Regions from separate parts of the Homo sapiens genome. Here all the other regions are linked to region 1. Evidence: fine-mapped expression QTL. A gene starts in region 1. Each other region holds a variant in brackets. All regions are shown on one strand. Distances are between the middles of the regions.

Region 1 (5,149 bases):
TCACCACGAGGGTGAAGACCCGGAGGCATGGAGGAAGGGAATGAAGGAGAGAAAAGGAGAAAGGGGAGACCTCCGGGCCACACTTCTTTCTAGTACCAACAAAAAGAGAAGCCGCATACTGACCTAAATCATCTCTCAAAGGCGCTTTATAAATTACAGGGACAAAGGGAGGGGGTGGCGGGTGGCCTGGGAATCCTACAGACACCCTACCCTCTGACCCACCCCCCTCCCCCTCCAGCACAAGGGAAGGAAGACAGAAAACAGAGCTCAACTCGGCCATTGGCGAGAAGCCCCCTCCGGTTTTCTATCGCCCATCCATCCGCCCCCTAGAAAAAAAATCCACGTAAACACCATACCCACCCCCTGGGGCAGACACTCCCGCCCCGAGGTTCCTAGAACCGGAGGCCGGGGCATTTACTTAGTTAGATTTTTCTTGCTTACTCATTTCCCTCGAGCACCCAACCCCCCGTTCCCACTCCAAAACCCCGCTCAACCGCCTACCCTCACCGCTTCAGCCCCCAACAGAATCCGGTGCCCCCGCGGCGTCGGCGGCCCCCGAGCCGTCCCGGTCACTAACCTGCTGCTGTAAGGGCATTTCCGAAACCAGCCTGGCTCCGGGGGGAGGTGGGGGGCCGGCTGGAGAGGGGGCCCGGAGGGCCGAACAGACCGGCGGCGCAGGGCGAGGGCGGGCGCCGGTGGGGGGGTGGGGAGAGGAGAGGGAGGGTGGCGGTGCCGGGGGCGGGTGCGAGGGCGCCGGGACCGTCCCAGGCCAGGGAGCCGGCGAGCAGGAGGAAGTGGGTGCCCCCCTCTCCCCCTCCAGCGCCCCCTCCCGCCGCCGCCTCCTCCCCAGTCACAGGCGCGTCCTGCGCGCACGTGTGCGAAACGTCACCGGCGGGTCCCGGAGAGAGGGACAGACCCAGGCGGCGGGACGGGAACCCAGCTGCCCCCGCCCTCCGTCGCCGGGGGGCGGAGAGGGGGACAGGGCGGGGAAGGAAGGGGCAAGGGGAGAGGCGGGTCAAGGGCAGGCCCGGGGCCCGGCGAGGAAGGCCTGGGCGCTTGGGCCACGCGGGCGCCGCCGCTGCCACTGCCAGGATGCGCCCAGGCCAGAGCGCCAGCCCGCGAGCCCCTCACCCCAGACAGCCCACGCCCCAGTCCGCACCCGGCTTCCAGCCCCACCTCCCCCACGCCCGACTCCCCTCCACCTCCCCCAGCCCCTTTGTTGCCGGGAGTTACAGATCCTAAAATGTGTCAAGCGCAGCCCCGCCGATCCCCTGCGCTCCGAGCACGCCGCAGGGACCCCCGGCCGCCAACGAGCCTCCAAGGCCGACTGGGGGCTAGCACCCCAACAGTCCCCCGGTTTCAACCCCTCAGAGCCCCCCACACCCCAGTTCACTACTCCCTCCCCCACCCCCTTCTCCATCCGGGGCGTGACCCCTTCCTACGCCCGAGAAAGAGGAAGCTTCGAGTTGGAGGGGAAGGGAGAGTGGGGGTAGGGAAAAGTGCAGGAAAAGAAGGGGGGGCCGCGAAAAGTTTTGGAGTGTTTGATGTGGTTCGCGCCAAGGCAATCCCCGCCGCCCCGCGCGCCTGGCCGAGCCCCCCGACCCTCCTGGCGCCGGGAAGAGCACTCAGGTCTAACAATGAACCCTCGTTGGAGGGGCAGCCCCCGAGGCCCACGATGCTCGGCCCAGTGCTCTCCCCGAGCGGCCCGCAGCGCGCCCACGACCCCGCGCGGTGCGAGCCCACCTCCCGCCGGGGCTGGGGACGGTGGGGAGGGAGGGTATTACCGGAGGGCCGCCGCCGCCGCCGCTGCCGCCGCGTCCCAGCGCTGGTGGCTGCTGCAGCAGCCCGGCTCTGCTGGAGGGTCCGTGCGGCGTGGTGTAGAGGAGGCTGCCGGCGGTCTGCTCCGCGCCGGGGGCACTGGGGAGGAGGGGGCCGGCGGCTACGGCGCCGCTTTGGAGGGAGGAGGAACAGGAGGTGGTGGAAGTGTTCGTGGTGAGGATCTGGATGTACGCGCCCGGGGCGGCGGCAGCGGCGGCGGCGGCGGCGAAGCCGGGGCTGGCTAGCAGTGCCCTTTTGTCCATGGAGGCTGCAGCGGCGGCGGCGACGACAGCCGCCCCCTCCCCACCCCCGGCGGTCACCAGGTACTGCTCCAGAGCGGGCTGGATTCCCTTTCTCATCTCTCGCTCCTGCTCTTTTTAGTGTTATGGTATATTAATGTATTGTTTTCAATTTCTTTATTATTTGCAGTCGGAGTTTCCAAGTCTCTCCTCCTTCTCTCCTCCCCGCCCGGCGCTTCCGAGCCCCCTCTCTCTCTTTTCTTTTTATTTTTCCGCACCGCACAGGCCCCGGGGGCCAAAAATAATCGGGGCTCTGGAGAGAGGAGGGTCCCGGCCGCACGGATATCGGGCCCCAAGCGGGGATGGAGGCGTCGGGGGCGGCCGATGCAACGGATTGCGAGGCGGCGGCGGCAGCCCGGGTGCTGCGGCCGGCAGCTGAAAAATGGCTCCAGGAAGCTGCTGCTGACAATGAATGAAGGGATACGGTTTACGCGCCAAGGTCCTCCCGCGAAACTCGGATTTCCCGCCGGCTTTTCAAACCATATTTGCATATCCCCGCCCCTCAACCCGCCGAGGACCGTTCCCACAGCCCATTGGGCCGCTACCTCCTTACTTCAGTCCCAATCATGGAGCAGGGCCGCGACTTGCTGGTTTCCATTGGCTGCCGTGCATCATGGTTACCGGGGCGACAGGGACCCTATTTGCATAGGCCTCCTTGATTGGCTGGCAGAAGAGCAGTTTTTAGGGGGTGGGGCAAAGAATTTCCTTCTCTCCCACGGAAGACCACGCCTGGCCTAGGCTCCGCCCCTGTCCCCGCCCGCCCGCCGGGCCGGCGCTACTGACCTGGGCAGGGACTCCGCGCCCCGCAGACTCAGTGTAGATCTAGTCTAGAGCCCAAGTTTCGCTTTTGGAAATTGTCAAGGTGACTAAGGGAACACTCTTTCCTTTGACCAGTCAGTGCAATAAACGAACAGCGCAGGAGATTTTTCCAGATACGTGCCAAAGGCAAGTTGGACCATGCGGACGATGTCTGGCAGGTGCAAAAGGAGCCCTTTAAATCGTGGGCTTCTCCCTTCCTGAAATCCAACCAATGACGCGGCGAGAGCTGATCCCGAGGCCGGGGCTGATAGACAGAAGCATGTGGGCAGACAGAATCGTGGGGGCAGAAGGTTCAGCAGACGCGATTGCGGGCACCAGTTAACATTCCAGATCATTCCCGGTACCTTCATTATTAGCCTGGATAGGGGTAAAGTACAAATTAACTCTTTTGTCTTACAACGGATATTGGTTTGAATCCAGCAGACATTCCCTCTGGCCCAGAAACACCCAGGGCAGTTAATCAGGGCTAACCTAGAACTGATCTACGGGTTTCTAATCCGCCAAGCAGTAATCCGAAAAAGTACACGCTTCCCACGATGACGTCGTGCCCCCAACGAACGCAGGCACGCCCAGGCATCAGCACTTTATATCTTCAGTTTTGTAGGAAGTTCTCTGACTGGAAGCAAACACAACGACTCAAACCTATCCCAAAGTATTTTTAAAATAGTGTCTTTTTTTAAAAAGTAAACTAGAAATTGTCATCAGAAAAATATAAAATGATGTGTCAAACTGACTCCTGAATTTGTTCAAGTATTCATGGGTCTTAAAATTAAAGCTTGCTCCTGAGATTGAGCAGGAAAAGAGACCCCTGCAGGAATGTGGGGGAAGTTATGTATGTAGAGACTAGATCATAATTTATAGTTACGTGCAAAACAGCTGCAGAATTGGTGCTCATAGGTGATGAGGATTGCAACACCTTGAGCCCTTTCACAAGATTTTTATTACTATTATTAATTTCCCAAAACTCTTACTCAGAGTGCTATGAAACACCTGACAAGATGTGTCAGATCAGGCTAGGACTCCTTAATATTTTAGCCTTGTTACCTTTTCTGAAACAGATGAGTTAAAAGTTCCATTAAACCTTGCACCAGGCTCAGGAATATTTTAGTCTTGCATTCAGGCTAGTTGAGGATCCATAGCCCTAAACATTTGTCGACACTGGTAGAGGTGACACTATCTTTATTTTTTGAGACAGAGTCTTGCTGTTGTTGCCCAGGCTGGAGTGCCATGGCACGATCTCAGCTCACTGCAACCTCTGCCTCCTGGGTTCAAGCAATTCTTCTGCCTCAGCTTCCTGAGTAGCTGGGACTACAGGTACGTGCCACCACGCCCAGCTAATTTTTGTATTTTTAGTAGAGACAGGGTTTCATCATGTTGGCCAGGCTGGTCTTGAACTCCTGACCCTAGGAGATCCGCCTCCCTTGGCCTCCCAAAGTGCTGGGATTACAGGCATGAGCCACCGCGCCTGGCCAGAAGTGACACTATCTTTAGGGCAGATTAAGTGGTACTCAAAGGGCATGAGCTAGAAGTGTAATATACCAGCAGCTTCCCTGCTCTTGTTCCATCAATGTTGCTTTCCTCTATGGATATACCTGTGGAAGAAACTAGTACTGTCACTACTTGGATATTACCATCTGCAGAGCATCACTGGCAGCTTGCATTTGGTGGCAGTAGTGGGGGTTGTGAGGGAGGAGTGGTGCAACATACACAGTAATTATAGACCTGCGCCTTATGATTAGAGACCAGCCTGGGACTGGGGCTGTGCATAGAATCCTGGCTTGAGCTCCCCACAAGTGATTGCAATAAGATAAATACGACACAGCCACAAGAAAGCAAGTGTTCACACTCTAGACCCACACCTGCAATTCTGCTTTAGAAAGCTTTCAGATATTTATCATTCTACCTTACCCAAGTTTTTTTAATATAGGGTATTTGGTAGAGAAACAGATGTTTTGACACTTTATGTCTAGTGAACTCTAGGATGAGTAGGTGGAGAGAAGAGTTCAAAGAGAGAAGATAGTGGAAGATAAGATGCTGAAATCCAAGGTAGGCTATTAATTTGTGGAAGAGGTAGCATGTTTTAGCAGAAAGAATGAGCTTTGGAGTCAGAGTGATCTGGGTTTAAATTCTGGCTCTGCCATTTACTAGCTATATAGCTAGGGGTGGTGGCTCACGCCTGTAATCCCAGCACTTTGGGAGGCCAAGGAGGGCAG
Region 2 (5,149 bases), 36 kb after region 1:
CAGCAAACAGGTGGGAATGAGATCATGGAAAGATAAACAACTCTAGAACACCAGATATGAAGTGTAGAAAGAAAAACTTTTAGAGTCGTTGATTTGCAGGCCAGGGGCCTTCCTGCAAGCAACCTTTGGGTTTATCATTGGGTTTATTGTTAATTGGTGAACTATTACACCCCCACAGTGGACCCATGATTATAAGACAGATCCCCACTTGCAGGAATTCATCAAATAAATGGCCTACTCTGCCTTCTGTTAATTTAATCTCCAATCCACAATGCTTCATGTTAGTACTCCTCAAGTAGAAAATGGATGTCATCCATGCTTATGTAATTTCTAGTTGAGCTCTTTAGCTCCAGCCATGCTTATTTGTGAGTCATAATTATGTCTGTGTAAAACACTGCTGCAAGCCCTGTGTGCCTGTGTGGGTGTTTTATGCATGGGTGTAGTCTACAGCCTGGGAAGCTAAACCTGTTGGTGAAGGGATTTTCATTTACCTAAGAGAAAGATCTTAACACTTAATAGAGAGCAGATTAATTTCAGCTGGTTATTTAGATAGAAAATATGGTTTGTTTGTGAGAGTGTAACCGGATGGAGCCACTGTCCTCCTTTCTCCCCAGCAACTCTCGGGGGTTAGGAGTGGGGAGGAGGATCAAAGAACTCATAACTTCTCCCAGGCTGGGCAGTCTGTGGTTAGTTTTTCTGCCTACCTGGTAAAGCCATGGGGTCCTCCACCTCTGGAGCAAGATTAGACCTCTCTTTGAGTAAAGGAGAGCCAAGGAAGTATAATGGATAGGCCTCTGGACCCAGAGCCTGCTGGGACCAGAGTTGTGTGCTCATGGGCAAGTTTCCTTATCTCTAAAATGGAGCAATAATCATATCTATCTAAAGGTTGCTGTGAGGATTAGATGAGTTCATTCATGAAAAGAGCTTACTGCCCTACATGTTGTGGTGCTCAAATAGCTGTCTTCTGAAGGGTTTATGGAACGGTCCTAAAATGGGAGCTGACTCGCTCACTCCCTTGAATCATACAAAGGGATAAGAGGAAGCCTCCTGTGGATATTCTCCTACCCTCCCTCCTCTTCTCCTCAATGTCCCCTCTCTGTAGTAGGCCTCTTCTGAAAGCCCTCATCACCTGGTTGCTCTGCCTTGTGCTTGAGACTCTGGTAAGGGTGATTCCTTCTTTGCCATTTTTTTTTTTTTTTGTGACAGGATCTCGCTCTGTCACCCAGGCTGGAGTGCAATGGCGTAATCATGGCTCACTGCAGTTTCAACCTGCTGGGCTCAAGCGATCCTCCCACCTCAGCCTGCCGAGTGGCTGGGTCTACTCAGGGGAAAAAATTTAGCTACCACACCAGGATAATTTTTTTATTTTTTTTGTAGAGATGAGGTCTCACTCACTATGTTGCCCAGGCTGGTCTCGAACTCCTGGGCTAAAGCAATCCTCCTGCCTGGATCTCCCAAAGTGCTGGGATTACAGGTGTGAGCCACTGCACCCAGCCCCACTTCTTTTCCTTGAGTTGAATTCTCAGGCCGGCTGTAGTGTGTGTTTGTCTTCTGTGAGGCTGTGTCTCTTCCACCCCCACTCCACCCCCATCCCCGCAGGCACCACTGCCTCCTTGCCAGGGCTGATTCTTTTCATCTTGCTCAAGTTCGGGCAGCTCTGTCAAACCCCCTGTTTGCTCTGATGGAGTGTGGGTGACTTCGTGACTGCCTTCCCACCTTATCTGAGACCAGTTTGTTTTCCCCAAAGTGCTATAATTTGCGGCTGGGTGTTTCCTGTTTTTTTGCACCCTCTGGGCATGGCAGGGGGAGCTCAGCAGAGACTATGTTTCTATGTTTCTTCATTAGAAAACCTGAGCTCCGGGCTTATTTCTATCTCAGTTCATCCCTCTGGTGTACCCATTTCCACAGGCTTTGGCTCCCTTCTCCAATTAAGAGTACAGCCCTGGAGTCTTCTCATTCATGTTA[C/T]TCCAGTTGACTGTTTCACCCAATTTCTCCCCAGCAGCCATTTTCATTCACTGCAGTCAGAAGACAGAAAAGATAAGGATAAAGCATACCGATGGGCTCTTTGCAGATTTAGAATACTGATGAGAATGCTTGGGATTCTATGGCCCATGAGTGAAAGAGTTGGGATTGGTAGCCCTGCCAAGATGCTGTCCTGCTTAGCTCCAGAATCTTATTTTCTTCCTGTACCACCTTTTTGGAGGCTTATGGTATTAGCATGTGCTCCTTTCCTCGTCTGATTGCTGCTGGTGGATTTTGAGGAGTTTTTTTTTTTTTACTTTTTCTGTTACTTCCTTAGGAATTAGCTATGAAGCAACACCATTCCTCCATATTAATCCAAAGGTTACATTTTTTTTTCTTTTAATATGGATGAGACCCAACTCCTTATGAAATAAAAACCCTGACCTTATTAAGCTATAATTCTTTCCTGGGCTGGCTTTTTCTTTACGAGGCTCTGCACATAAACAGCCATACTTCTCCAGCCACCCAATCAAATGGCAACATATTATACCTCCAGCCTTCAAATATCTCCTCAATAACCGAAGTAATGGTAGATCAGGGAATCGGATCAATGTGCCACACTAACTAATTTGCTGTAGCCAGCCACAGAATCAGGTGTCCCTGGAGAAAAAATGATGTAGTACAGTGTTTATCAGTATAGACTTTGGAGCCTGACTGCTTGAGTTCAGTTTCTGTTTTCACCACATACTAGCTAGCTGTGCAAATTTTAACAAATTGCTGTTTCCTGTACCTCTATGTCCTTATATGTAAAACGGGATGATGAGAATTAATTTTACCCACCTCTTAGGGTCCCTATGAAACTTAAATGAGTTATTTTGTATGATATGTTTAGAGTAGTGCCTAGCTCATTGTACCTATTTAATACATAGTAGCTATTATCTTCCTTTCTTCTTCCATTGCTGTTTATTTGTTTAGTGTCTAATCTGGCTATTTCTGGAAAATCCTGGTCTTCACCGACTAGGAGAAGCAAATGTGCTTTTACTTAAAAAGAGTGATCTAGAAATACAGCAGCTTTGCTGGGTATGGTGGCGCATGTAATCCCAGCGCTTTGGAAGGGTGAGGCTGAAGGATCACTTGAGCCCAGGAGTTCAATGTTGCAATGAGTTAGGATCATGCTACTGAACTCCAGCCTGGGCAATAGAGTGAGACCCTCTCTCAAAGAAGAAGGAAGAAGAAGAAGAAGGAGGAGGAAGAAGGGGAGGAGAAGAAAAGACATATAACTGCTCTGCTGATAGGAAGTAGAAATCAGGACAAGAAGCAGAAGAGATGAAATAAGCAGGAATTATTGAAACTGGGTGATAGGTACATGGGTGTTCAATATATTATTGTCTAATTTTTGTGAATATTTATTTTCTATAATAAAACTGTAAAAAGAAAAAAAGAGATAAACTCTAAAATCTGTCAGTGTGGATCAAGAGCAGTGAGATGGGAACACTCATATATCCTAGGTGGGAGGCCAAATTGCTATGAGCTGCTTAGACAACAATTTGACAGCATATATCAAGAACCCTAAAAATGTTTGTTCCAGTTACTACAGCTGTGTAAAAAATTACCCGGAAACCTTGGCTTTAAACAACCATTTTATTGTGTTCGCAGATTCTGTGGATCAGATTTGGATAGCCTACAGTGGGGATGGTTTGTCTCTGTAATGTGTAGTACCTTGGCTGGGGACTTGAAGGCTTGGGGTGACTCAGAAGCTGTACCTAGAACCCACTGAAGGTTTGTTCACTCACAAGTTTGGCACCTGGACTGGTGTGATACAAAAACTAGGTATGTGGAATGATTCATGTGGCCTTCAAGTGGCTTGGCTCCTCACAGCATGGTGGCCTTAGGGTAGCCCGATTTTTCACATGGTGGCTCAGGGCTCCAAGCATGAGTCCTCCAGCCATCACACTGAATGGCAGAGTACTCTCTTGGTTGATGTTGTCATAAGTCTACCCAGATTCAAAGGGAGGGAAAATAGACCCTGGTTCTCCATGAGAGGAGTGGCAAAGAATTTTAGGGTCATGTTTCAAAACTGCTACAATGTTTGTGTCTTTTGACCCGATGATTTCACTTCTAGGGATTGACCTCAATGAAATTATTTGAAATGTAGACAAAGTTTTATGCATATATTTCAATATAATCTATAATAATGAAATATTAGAAATAAACTTAATGACTAACAATAAGAAAATGAATAAATGTCAGCAAATCTCTAAGATGTTGCAAAGCCATTAAAATGGAGTTCGATTTTTTTTAACACATAGGAACATGTTCATGTTTTTCCTTTCCGAGAGTTGCAAACTGTCATCCTTGGGGTCCCACCATCTCTCTCATTTTTCTCTTCTCATGCCTGGTGTGTATTTACCAGTGGGTTGATGAGGTTGGTTCTAAATAAGCATTTGTGCCTAGTTTCATCAAAGGTCATCACTGGGGCCGGGCACGGTGGCTCACATCCCAGCAGTTTGGGAGGCCGAGGTGGGTGGATCACCTGAGGTCAGGAGTTCAAGACCAGCTTGGCCAACATGGTGAAACCCCATCGCTACTAAAAGTACAAACATTAGCTGGGTGTGGTGGCGGGCACCTGTAATCTCAGCTACTCGGGTGGCTGAGGCAGGAGAATCGCTTGAACCCGGGAGGCAGAGTTTGCAGTGAGCCAAGATCTCGCCATTGCACTCCAGCCTGGGCAACAAGAGTGAAACTCCATCTCAAAAAAAAAAAAAAAAGTTCATCACTGGAACCTGTTTGCCCAAAATCTGTAGCTTCCACAGCGCTCAACAAGCTGCTATGGTTTTCGTCCCAGCCCCCACCTGACAGACGGCTGTATACCTTACTTCCAGTGGATACACAACTTGTCCTTGTCTCAGTTGCCCTCTGATGACCTATTCCATTGTTCTCCTCCCCAAGGCTAAGTTCTCTTAGGATCCGTCAACAAATTCAACAGATGATAATGCCTTAGACACATCATATAGCAGCTGCAGATGTCGTTTTCTTATAATCTATATAATCTACTACTTTTTGAAAAGGACCTCAAACATTTCACCAGTCAATATATTCAGTAGGCAACATCTGAAATAAACTGGTGCCAAAGTGACATATTATTATTGATTGATATTATTTTCACAATAGTTTCCTGATGTGAATT
Region 3 (5,149 bases), 980 kb before region 1:
AAAAAAACATTTTAGGCCCAAATTCAAGTAATTTGGTAATAAACGTTGCGTGCTGGGTGAACTATTTGTCTCATATGAGCACATAGAAGATATGTGTTCTGTAAACCTTGTAAGAGTTTACCTTCAATTTCAATCCCCTCTGCAAATGCATTAGGATTGTAATCTCCTTAATAGCAGCGACTATGAATGTGAAGGCTCATATGCTTGGTAACAATCTGGCTGAATGGGAAAAGTCCAGTAACTGCAGGCAGAGAGGCCTGGGTTTAATGGGGGCTCCACCACTTTGCTGGCTTTCTGATCTTCAGAAAATTACTTACCCTAGAGGGCTATTGTGAGGATTAAATGAGCTAATGTGTGAAGTGCAAGCACTGATTCAGAGCAAGTGCTCAATAGTTGCCTTTACTACTGTTTATGTTCCAGGCCATATTGGGCCCAGAGTAAATTGGAGCAGGAGTCTAATGGGCTCCTTGGCCTGACAACCCTCAATTTGCTATGAAGAGCATAAATATGAAATAAACATGCATATTTGCATCTCTTGATTGGGTACTTTCGTCTCAGTCAGTCTATTCAAGGTCCTAGTGGGTTCATAAATCCATTTCATTTGAATCCAGAGTTCCCCCCACAACTTCTCATACACATTCTCACATACTGAACACTTCATTACAAACCTGGGCATGACGAATGTCTATTCCTTCACTTGTTGAGACGACCTCTCTCATCCAGCCCATCTACCTCTTCCTGGCTGCAATTACTGCCCTTTCCAACCTGGGCTTCAGAATGGATCATTCATCAGCAGGGTTCTTCCTCACAGCGGTAATTCCTTACCCTCCCCACTCTCAGTCCTGGTCCGGTGTTATCACCACCGTCTGCTTTCTTTTCTCTTATGCCTGGGCTGCTGGACATTGTTGTGAAAAGTCAAGATGATTGGTCCATTCATTCATTCATTCATTTAACCAATATTTACCAAGTTTCCTAAAGCTTTATTGGGCACTGGAGATATAGAGTCAGGACAGACCCAGAGGTCCCTACATCCGTCACATTTACAGACTAGTAGAGGGACAGCCACAGACGACACACAGATACCATTGCACAATGTGACCAGGGCTATGAAGGACGTGCTGGGATGAAGGAAGATGGGAAGAGGGAGGCCATTCCAACAGCAGTGGCCTGAGGAGGCGCTGCTCAGGAGAGGCGTTCACGCTGAAGCCTGAAGGATGAGAGGGAGCAGCATCTGCAAAAGCCCTGGGGAGGGAATGCACCTGACACATTTGAAGGCCCACAAAGGCCCATGTGGCTGAAGCAAGGACTTTTGGGGAACTGTGGTGTGGGACAGGGTGGGAGGGCAGAGCAGGGCTCTGCTTATGCCTGGCCTGAGAGGTATTGGTGAGAAGCTAGAATTTTATCCTCAGAAAAATGAGAAGCCATTGATGAGATTTAAGCAAAGAAGGGTCATGATAGGATTAGGATTTACCAAGAAAGGAGGCTCACTTATCTCCACCCCTCGACTGGCCCATTCTGGCCCCCAGTTCTCCTGGGCTTGCTATGGATTCCCTGATACGGGTGCTCAAAAGCTCTTCTTGCTGAATCTTCATGCACAAAGGGCCCACCTCTCAGCCCTCACCCTCACCCTCTACTTGACTGAAAAATTAAGGTCATCCTCTCTCTCTCTTCTCATGTTAAAATATGCATATCATAACATTTGCCATTTGCCATTTGAACCACTTTAAGTGTACATTTCAGTGTTCTTGAGGACATTTACATTGTGCATAACCACTACCACTGTCCATTTCCAGAACTTTTCGTCTTCTTTTTTTTTTTTGAGACAGAGTTTCACTCTAGTCACCCAGGCTGCAGTGCAATGGCCCGATCTCAGCTTACTGCAACCTCCACCTCCTGGGTTCAAGCAATTCTCCTGCCTCAGCCTCCCGAGTAGCTGGGACTACAGGCGCCCGCCACCACACTTGGCTAATTTTTGTATTTTTAGTAGAGATGAGGTTTCACCACGCTAGCCAGGCCGGTCTCGAACTCCTGACCTCAGGTGACCCACCCGCCTCGGCTTCCCAAAGTGCTGGGATTACAGGCATGAGTCACTGTGCCCGGCCACTTTTTCATCATTTCAAACTGAAATTCTGCACCCACGAAACAACATCCTTTTTCTTTTTTATTTTTATTGAGACAGGGTCTCGCTCTGTCACCCAGGCTTGAGTGCAGTGGCACAATCTTGGCTCACTGCAGCCTCTGCCTCCAGACTCACCCTCAATCTCCCCAGTAGCTGGGACTCACAGACGCACACCACAGCGCCTGGCTAATTTTTGTATAACTGGGTTTTGCCATGTCACCCAGGCTGGTCTCGAACTCCTGGACTCAGGTGATCTGCGCACCTCGGCCTCCCAGAGTGCTGGGATTACAGGCTGGGATTACCGCACCTGGCCAACAACATCTTTTTTCTTCTAACTTCCTCTGTAGCTTTACCAGCAGCTTCCATCTTGTCTCTGAAGGAAAAGTGGGCCTCTCCTGAGCCAAGGCTTTTTGTTCATTCCACCTTCTCCAACCGTCCTTGAACCATTTCCACGGACCCAGCCGGCTCACATCTTCAGTCTCTGCACTCTCTCCTTATCCCTCACTGACAGACAGGCCTATGTCTTTCCATCGCTAATGTCTATGAATAAATGAATGAACGTATTTTTAAAGGGCCAGGTGTGGTGGCTCACGCCTGTAATCCCAGCACTTTGAGAGGCCGAGGCAGGTGGATCGCTTGAGGCCAGGAGTTCAAGACCAGCCTGGCTAACATGGTGAAACCCCATCTCTACAAAAAATACAAAAAACCAAAGTGGGCATGATGGTGCATGCCTGTAATCTCAGCCACTCGGGAGGCTGAGGCAGGAAAATTGCTTGAGCCTGGGAGGTAGATGTTCCAGTGGGCCAAGATTGCACCACTGCACTCCAGCCTGGGTGACAGAGCTAGTTTCCATATAAAAAAAAAGAAAAAGAAAAAA[T/A]ATATATATATGTGTGTGTGTGTGTGTGTGTATACATATACATATACATATATATATATATATATTCAAAATCCTTCCCTCAGCTATACTACTCCCTTGGCCTAAGCTTAAATTTCTCCTTTGCTTCAATGCCTAGGTTCTGAGTTGTTCTGCACACGCTGCCTGTATGGCTGACACCAGCGATGTCCCCAGCCCCAGGGATCATGAGCCCTGGCCTTGCTGCAGCAGGTGACACTGCTACTGCTCCTCCTCCTCCTTGAAATTCTTTGATTCCTTGGCTTCTGTGATGCTGTATTTCAGTGGTCCCTCACACATGGGATGCGTCCTTTTCTGTCTCCTTCCCTCATCCCTCTCCTTCCCCTGGCCTTAAACACAGGAGCTCCTTAGGATCTGTTCTCGAATCCACTGCTCCTACCATCCGGCTCATTTTCTCTGCTGCCAGCTGGACATTCCCATGGGGACGGCCCGTCAGCATCTCAAATGCACTAGTTTCAAAACCAAACTCATCCTGTCCCCTGACCAGACCCAGCTTCACTTCCAGCTTGTGTATCCCAAAGGTCATAATTGCCACTGCCCCAGTTCACATCCTCATTAACACTTCCCTTTACTACGGCAAGAATCAAACTCCATTCTTACCCTGCGTGTATCCATCCTATCTGTTGCTTCTAGATGAATCCTCCTAAAACATGGGCTTGATCATAGCACTCACCCGTCCAATCACATCAGTGACACACTGTGACACACCTTGAGCCTGACATACAACAGCCCCGTGCCCTGGCTCCAGGCAATCTTTCAGCTTTATCTATGACAACGAACCAGGCCACAAACATCTCAAGCATGTCTATGGCATTCTGAGCTCTTGTCCCTTCCCTTGCTTCCCCATCTGACTTTTTTATCCCTTTCTTTCTTCAGGGTCCTTCCAAGTGATGCTATTTCTTCCTAAAATGTCATGCAATTCCCGAATGTGGTTTCTTCCTACAGTACTTTGTTGCAACTTCCTGTTGACACTAGTTCTGTCCTTAGTTGCTCTACCTGATGGTAGTTTCTTTCCCTTCCTTCCCTTCTCCAAACCACTTTGCTTGTCTGTAAAAGTATGACCGGAGGCCTTGATGACCTCTCCTGCATCTCCCCATCTACCATTTCTGAGTCTGTGGCTTTGGCAGCAGAAGTCCTGGTGTGTAGACACAATTTACTCTGTGCCCGATATGGCCTGGAATATAAACAGTAGTAAAACAATGGACCACAGTTGAAGGCTTGGGTTCCACAGGCTGCTCTACCTGAGCAAATCCCTTGACCACACTGGAAATCACATCTCCATCTTTGAAACTAATGATTTAGATTTGGAAGATCTCTTAAATCTTCTAAGTTACCACCTTTTAATTCCCATTTCTCCCAACACCCAAGACAATGCCTACTGTTTACAGAACAAGTTAGCTCTTTTCACCTATCATATTGTTTACTTCTTAAACCAACAAAGTGAATTCCAAGGCACGATAACCTTTATCAAGAAAGAAAAGTAAGCCAGGCATGGTGGCTCATGCCTATGATCCCAGCACTTTAGGAGGCCAAGGCAGGAGGATTGCTTGAGGCCGGGAGTTCAAGACCAGCCTGGCAACACAGCAAGACCCCCATCTCTACAAAAAATTTTCAAAATTATCCAGGTATGGTGGTGTGTACCTGTAGTCGTAGCTACATAGGAGGATTGCTTGAGCCCAGGAGGTCAAGACTGCAGTGAGCTATGATCGCAGCACTACACTCCAGCCTGGGTGACACAGTGAGACCCTGTCTGAAAAAATAAAAAAGCTTATTTTTTCCATTTCTCATAATTGGCCCCTAATTCTGATTTCAAATGTATAATCAAATGTGTGCTCTAAAATAAGTTATGTGTACACAAATGGGGATTTTTACCTGCAAACTAAGTTACTGTAGGCTTATTGGCACAAATATAGTCTATGTATCATAGAAATCATTGGGATTAAGTGTTGGGAGTAAATGTATCAGGGGACATCTCATTTTGCTTGACTTGAGGACTTACTACATAACTAGGGACTCTTACACGTATCAGCCCGTGACCCACGTAGATACCAGAGAGAAGCAGAGAAGCTTCCTGTCCCAGGGCCCGCGGCCCTCCTGCTGTGGGCTCCAATCATGCC
Region 4 (5,149 bases), 23 kb before region 1:
CAAACCCTAACTCAGAGATCTGCTTCAGAATTTAAATGAACTGCTGCCAACTCACTTGGAAAGAGCACTATCAGAGATGCAAATGTAAATAGTAAATATCATCAAGGAGCTCCTAGGACTTCGAAAAGAGGAGATGCATGGCATGGAAGGTGTGTGGCAGGTGTCAGGAAGGCCAACTTCCACAGTGACATTCTCTCCAAGTCACCTCAAATGGTAGTCCAAATGTATGCCGGCAGAATGGGCAGTCACTTCGGCAGCAAAACCTCCCTGAGGTCCCCAAGAATTCAATGGCCACAGTGAGTCTCTGTGGCTTAGTGGACAGTCACAGAAGGTCTGAGCAGAAGGGGGCCTTAGAAATCACTTTTATTTGACAAATGAGAAACTGGAGCCCTGAGGTGAAAAGAATTGATCCCACCCAACCTGCCAGGTCCCTGGTGCCTGACTACACTGCAAACCCCAATGTAACCCCTGCCCTGGCCGACCCTTCTTCCCTAAGCAGATTTTGCAGGAGTAGTTTCAGGACCATATTATTGTTCTGAACTTCTAAGAGGAAAGGGCCAAATACAAAGTGTTTGGTTAACTCAGTCAATGGAGCATAAATGAGATGTTTAAATCTTTGAGTTACAAAGCCTCATTAGGGTAAGAAGGCGCTGTAGGAGTGGACATAGGGAGGGTTTGTGATTCCCATTATATGATAAGAAATGCTATTAGGCTGGAATCAGTTCGATATGCCCAGGGAAGGCAGGCAGGAGTGGTAGTGAACATTTGTCTTCTTATTATATATGCAAAAACCCCAGCTAACATTGTACCTTATGCAGAACTTTTCATTCTCAGTCACTTTTACACATATATTACCCCATTTTCTTCCCCCAGCATCACAGTGGAGAAGGTATGGATAGGTGGTTTGGGGTGCCAATAAACCATAGACTATTTGAAGAAAAAAAATGTCTCACCCATAGTTTCATGGAGCCACATTTAGATTCTAGGTCTAATTTCAACAGATATCAGCACAGTGGAGCTACAGTTACAGTGGACAGATCATTTGTCAAGAATGGAAAAAGCCAGGATGCCAGGGCAGTTGTATTGGGGGGGATGGGAAGGAAGAAGTGAAAGTCTATTTTAAAAGAAATGTAGAGAAAAACTGCTAACAGAGCAGGCAGAGTTCAAGTTTAAGCCCTGGGCATGAGGGAAAGCCCAGTCAGCTGAGGCCATGCCAACACTTCAGGGTTACAAGCACCACTGGTCACCAACAGCACAGCCCTGGAAGGCCCATGTGTGGCCACGATCCCACAATGACACTAGGTGGAGATCAGGCAGATACCACCAACAGAGAGGCTGGGAATGGAATAAGATATTTCAGCCATAACTGCAGACGTGAAAAACAAGATTGGGGCGGCAAGTGCTAAATAAATCACAAAATAATTATTCATTTACCTCTCAGTCTGGAAGTAAACCTATGCTTTCACAAAATTAAGAGTGCAATCATGCAGTAAAAACAAGAAATCTTTGATTAGGTGCCTTCTATTGTGTAATACAAAATTGGATAATGTAGACCAAAAAACAATAAATGAATGACAAAGCAAAACTATATATTTTTATAAAAGACACTAAGATTTAATTCCCCTATACTTACACCAGTAATTGTTGAAGAAAAGGTAAATTAAAGGACTCAGGATATGAAAACAAACTTGATCCCCACCACCACTGCCAATTAATTACATGCACATGAGAAATTCACTAAGCAGCTAATCATTTATATTCTGGTGTAGTATTTCCGCACAACTATTGTATTAGATATTTAAATTTGCAATTTCAAATGGACTCATTGTCACAGGCCTCTTAGTCCATTTTACACACAAAATCAATACACTATTCCTAATAAATGAGATTACTTTTCCAAAACTCCCAGTGGGAGCTCAACAGGACTTCTGTTTGGGAGGCTGCTTCAAACTTCTCCAAAGAAAATTACTTTTCTGATGTTCACCTCTAAGAACCAACAGAAGGCACCTGAGAGAATTCAAATGAAGAAGCAACCACCTCGGGGGAAGGGAGGGCTCAAACTGTTAGGTAATTTAGACACATGAATGTCCCAGTTTAAATGCCACTCTATAGCAAAGCATTTCTGGATCCACCTGAGACCTCTGTTCCTCCACTAGAGAGCTAAGACACGTTGTTGCATTTTCTTCTAAAAGGTAGAAGGGGCCGGGCGCAGTGGCTCACGCCTGTAATCCCAGCACTTTGGGAGGCCGAGGCGGGGCGGGCGGGCAGATCACCTAGGGTCAGGAGTTCAAGACCAGCCTGGCCGACATGGTGAAACCCCGTCTCTACTAAAAATACAAAAATTAGCCAGGCATTGTGGCGTACGCCTGTAGTCCTGGCTACTCAGGCGGCTGAGGCAGAAGAATCGGTTGAACCCAGGAGGCAGAGTTTGCAGTGAGCCAAGATCGTGCCACTGCACTCCAGCCTGGGTGACAGAGCGAGACTTTGTCTCAAAAAAAAAAAAAAAAAAAGTAGAAGGTTCCTGGGGTTGTGCGCACAGCTCCTCCCAGCCTACTGCCCCATTCTGAATGTCCAGGGCTGTGTATTCCTCACCTTTGTATTCCAAACCACAGACCCAACTCTAGAAAAGAGCCGAGGAAGGGTTACAGTGTCTGGCATTAAAAAAAAGCACTGGGTAAATAATTTCTCTCCCCACTCACTTAAACTTTAGCCTGTGGTCCCAACTTGACTTGTATCCTAAATCTGAACAAATACCCTTGGCAAAGCCAAATTTTTCAACTCTTGCTGCCCCAATGGATAAATCCTTTAGAGAGATCTTGCTAGGTCTTCCCTTCATGCAATAAACACTCTACTCTGTAAAAGCCACTGACCGCCCTGCAGGACATGGAGAAACACCTGATAACCCGCCCTAGACAATGGCCTGCCCTCGTCATGTGAGAAAACCCCACGTGTCTGGGTTGCATAATGGTTAAGAGAGGTTTCGAAATTTCC[T/C]GGACTTGGTCTGGAACCCTGGTTCTGCCAATGTCCAGAAATGCAGCCTTGGACAAACTGCTTCATCACTGAGCCTCACTTTCCTCATCTACAGATGAGGATATTGGCACCAACTCTCAAGGTTTGTTGTATCAGATGAAAGAAAAAATGTAAACAGCTTACTGCTATTCCCAGTGCAGTAGACTATCTAATAAGTGCAGAGAGTTTTTTTTCTTATAACCCTAAACTCACAGTGGATGGGGGAGAAGAAGCTCAATTTGTAAAAATGCAAGTAAGCATGAACATAAAAACTGTAATTTTAATGAAAAAAAAAAGTATGTAACAGGAAGCAGATTTTCCTTATCTATAGCAAATCATATCACAAAGCTACTGTATTCAAAACAGTGTGCTGCTTCTTTACAAAGGGATAAAGGTATCAATGGAGCAGAGTAGAAAGTTCAGAGACAGAACAACACAGACACACATGCACACAGCACATACATGCATGTATGCATGTACACACACACACACACACACACACACATACACACACTCTCTCTGTGTCTCTCTGAGAAAAGGGCATTTCAAGTGCATGCGTGGGGAAAGCGGAACCATCCAATAAATGGCACTAGTTTAACTGGCTATTCGTTTAGGAAAAATAAAGTCACACCTTTAAAACACACACACACACACACACACACACACACACACACACACCCTTCCACTGAGGTTAAAGATCAAAATAATAAAATTATGAAGCCAGGAGAAAAAATATATAGAATATTGTTATGGTTTGCAGATTAGGAAAGGCCTTCCCAAAGCAAGCCACCAAACTCAAACTGTAAAAGCTGTAATTTCGGCTGTGTGCAGTGGCTCACACCTGTAATCCCAGCACTTTGGGAGGCCGAGGTGGGTGGATCACCTGAGGTCAGGAGTTCGAGACCAGCCTGACCAACATGGTGAAACCCCATCTCTACTAACAATACAAAAAATTAGCCGGGCATGGTGGCAGGTACCTGTAATCCCAGCTACTCGGGAGGCTGAGGCAGGAGAATCGGTTGAACTCGGGAGGCAGAGGTTGCAGTGAGCCAAGATCAGGCCATTGCACTCCAGCCTGGGCAACAAGAGCGAAACTCTGTCTCAAAAAAAGCACTGTAATGGCCGGGTGTGGTGGCTCACACCTGTAATCCCAGCACTTTGGGAGGCCGAGGCAGGCAGATCACGACGTGAGGAGTTCGAGACCAGCCTGGCCAACATGGCAAAACCCTGTCTCTACTAAAAATACAAAAATTAGCTGGGTGTGGTGGTGGGCGCCTGTAATCCCAGTTACTTGGGAGGCTGAGGCAGGAGAATCGGTTGAACCCAGGAGGCAGAGGTTGCAGTGAGCCGAGATCGTGCCATTGCACTCCAACCTGGGCGACAAGAGCAAGACTTGGTCTCAAAAAAAAAGCACTGTAATGTCACATGTAGTCATCTGCCAAACAATGATGCTTTCAGTCGACAGCAGACTGTATATATTCCAGTGGTCCCATAAGATTATAAGACTGTATTTTTACTATACTGTTGCTATGTTTGGATACATACCACTGTGTTTAAGTTGCCTACAGTATTCAGCCCAGTAACATACAGTACAGGTTTGTAGCCTAGGAGCAAGAGGCTAGACCATAGAACCTTGGGGTATAGTAGGCTATACCATGAGGTTTGTGTAAGTACTCTCTATGATGTCTGCAAAATGATGAAATTTCCTAATGACACATTTCTCAGACTATATCCCCATCGTTAAGTGACACATGACATTATAAAAACTAAATAAACATATGTAGAAAGAAATACATCATAGAAAAATCAAAAGAAACATAATAGGCTTGGGCAAAACAATACAGGGATACCACATTTCATTGTGCTCCACGGATACTGCAGTGTTTTACAAACTGAAGGTTTGTGACAACCCTGCATCAAGCTAGTCTATCAGCACCATTTTTCCAACAGTGCTTACTACATATCTCTGTCAAATTTTGGTAATTCTCGTAATATTTCAAACTTTTTCATTACTATTATGTCTGTTGTGGTGATCCGTGATCAGTGATCTTTGATGTCACTATTGCAATTACTAATGTCACTAAATAATGTTTAGTAACAATATATAATGGCAAACTTAATTGATAGCCATTGTGCGTGT

Which allele goes with the higher level. Positions count from the first base shown, and alleles are read on the strand shown. Sizes are in standard deviations (SD) of each study's normalised expression. Not every link is listed here.
As copies of A replace T in region 3, the expression in lymphoblastoid cells of the gene that starts at base 2,531 in region 1 goes up (large effect, 1.2 SD a copy in TwinsUK).

The links.
Region 2: its variant is fine-mapped to the expression of E2F3 in whole blood (TOPMed, PIP above 0.99).
Region 3: its variant is fine-mapped to the expression of E2F3 in lymphoblastoid cells (TwinsUK, PIP 0.95).
Region 4: its variant is fine-mapped to the expression of E2F3 in whole blood (TOPMed, PIP above 0.99).

The regions. Positions count from the first base shown.
Region 1 is chr6:20,399,261-20,404,409 of GRCh38, reverse strand. E2F3 (E2F transcription factor 3) reads right to left here and starts at 2,531. Exons shown (of 7, transcript NM_001949.5): 1 at 1,785-2,531. The coding sequence starts at 2,177. It overlaps LOC124901482, which reads left to right and starts at 1,638. Exons shown (of 3, transcript XM_047419652.1): 1 at 1,638-1,985; 2 at 2,030-2,141; 3 at 2,248-3,669. The coding sequence starts at 1,638. The coding sequence ends at 2,855. RefSeq lists silencers at 577-1,196, 1,397-1,866, 2,717-2,956 and an enhancer at 2,094-2,618.
Region 2 is chr6:20,363,166-20,368,314 of GRCh38, reverse strand. No RefSeq gene overlaps it. Among named protein-coding and RNA genes, the nearest start is that of E2F3, 36 kb to the left of the region's middle. The variant C/T (reference allele first, on the strand shown) is at 1,966.
Region 3 is chr6:21,376,191-21,381,339 of GRCh38, reverse strand. No RefSeq gene overlaps it. Among named protein-coding and RNA genes, the nearest start is that of LINC00581, 130 kb to the left of the region's middle. The variant T/A (reference allele first, on the strand shown) is at 2,997.
Region 4 is chr6:20,422,749-20,427,897 of GRCh38, reverse strand. All of the region lies in intron 1 of E2F3 (E2F transcription factor 3), which reads right to left. Among named protein-coding and RNA genes, the nearest start is that of E2F3-IT1, 12 kb to the left of the region's middle. RefSeq lists an enhancer at 20-89. The variant T/C (reference allele first, on the strand shown) is at 2,992.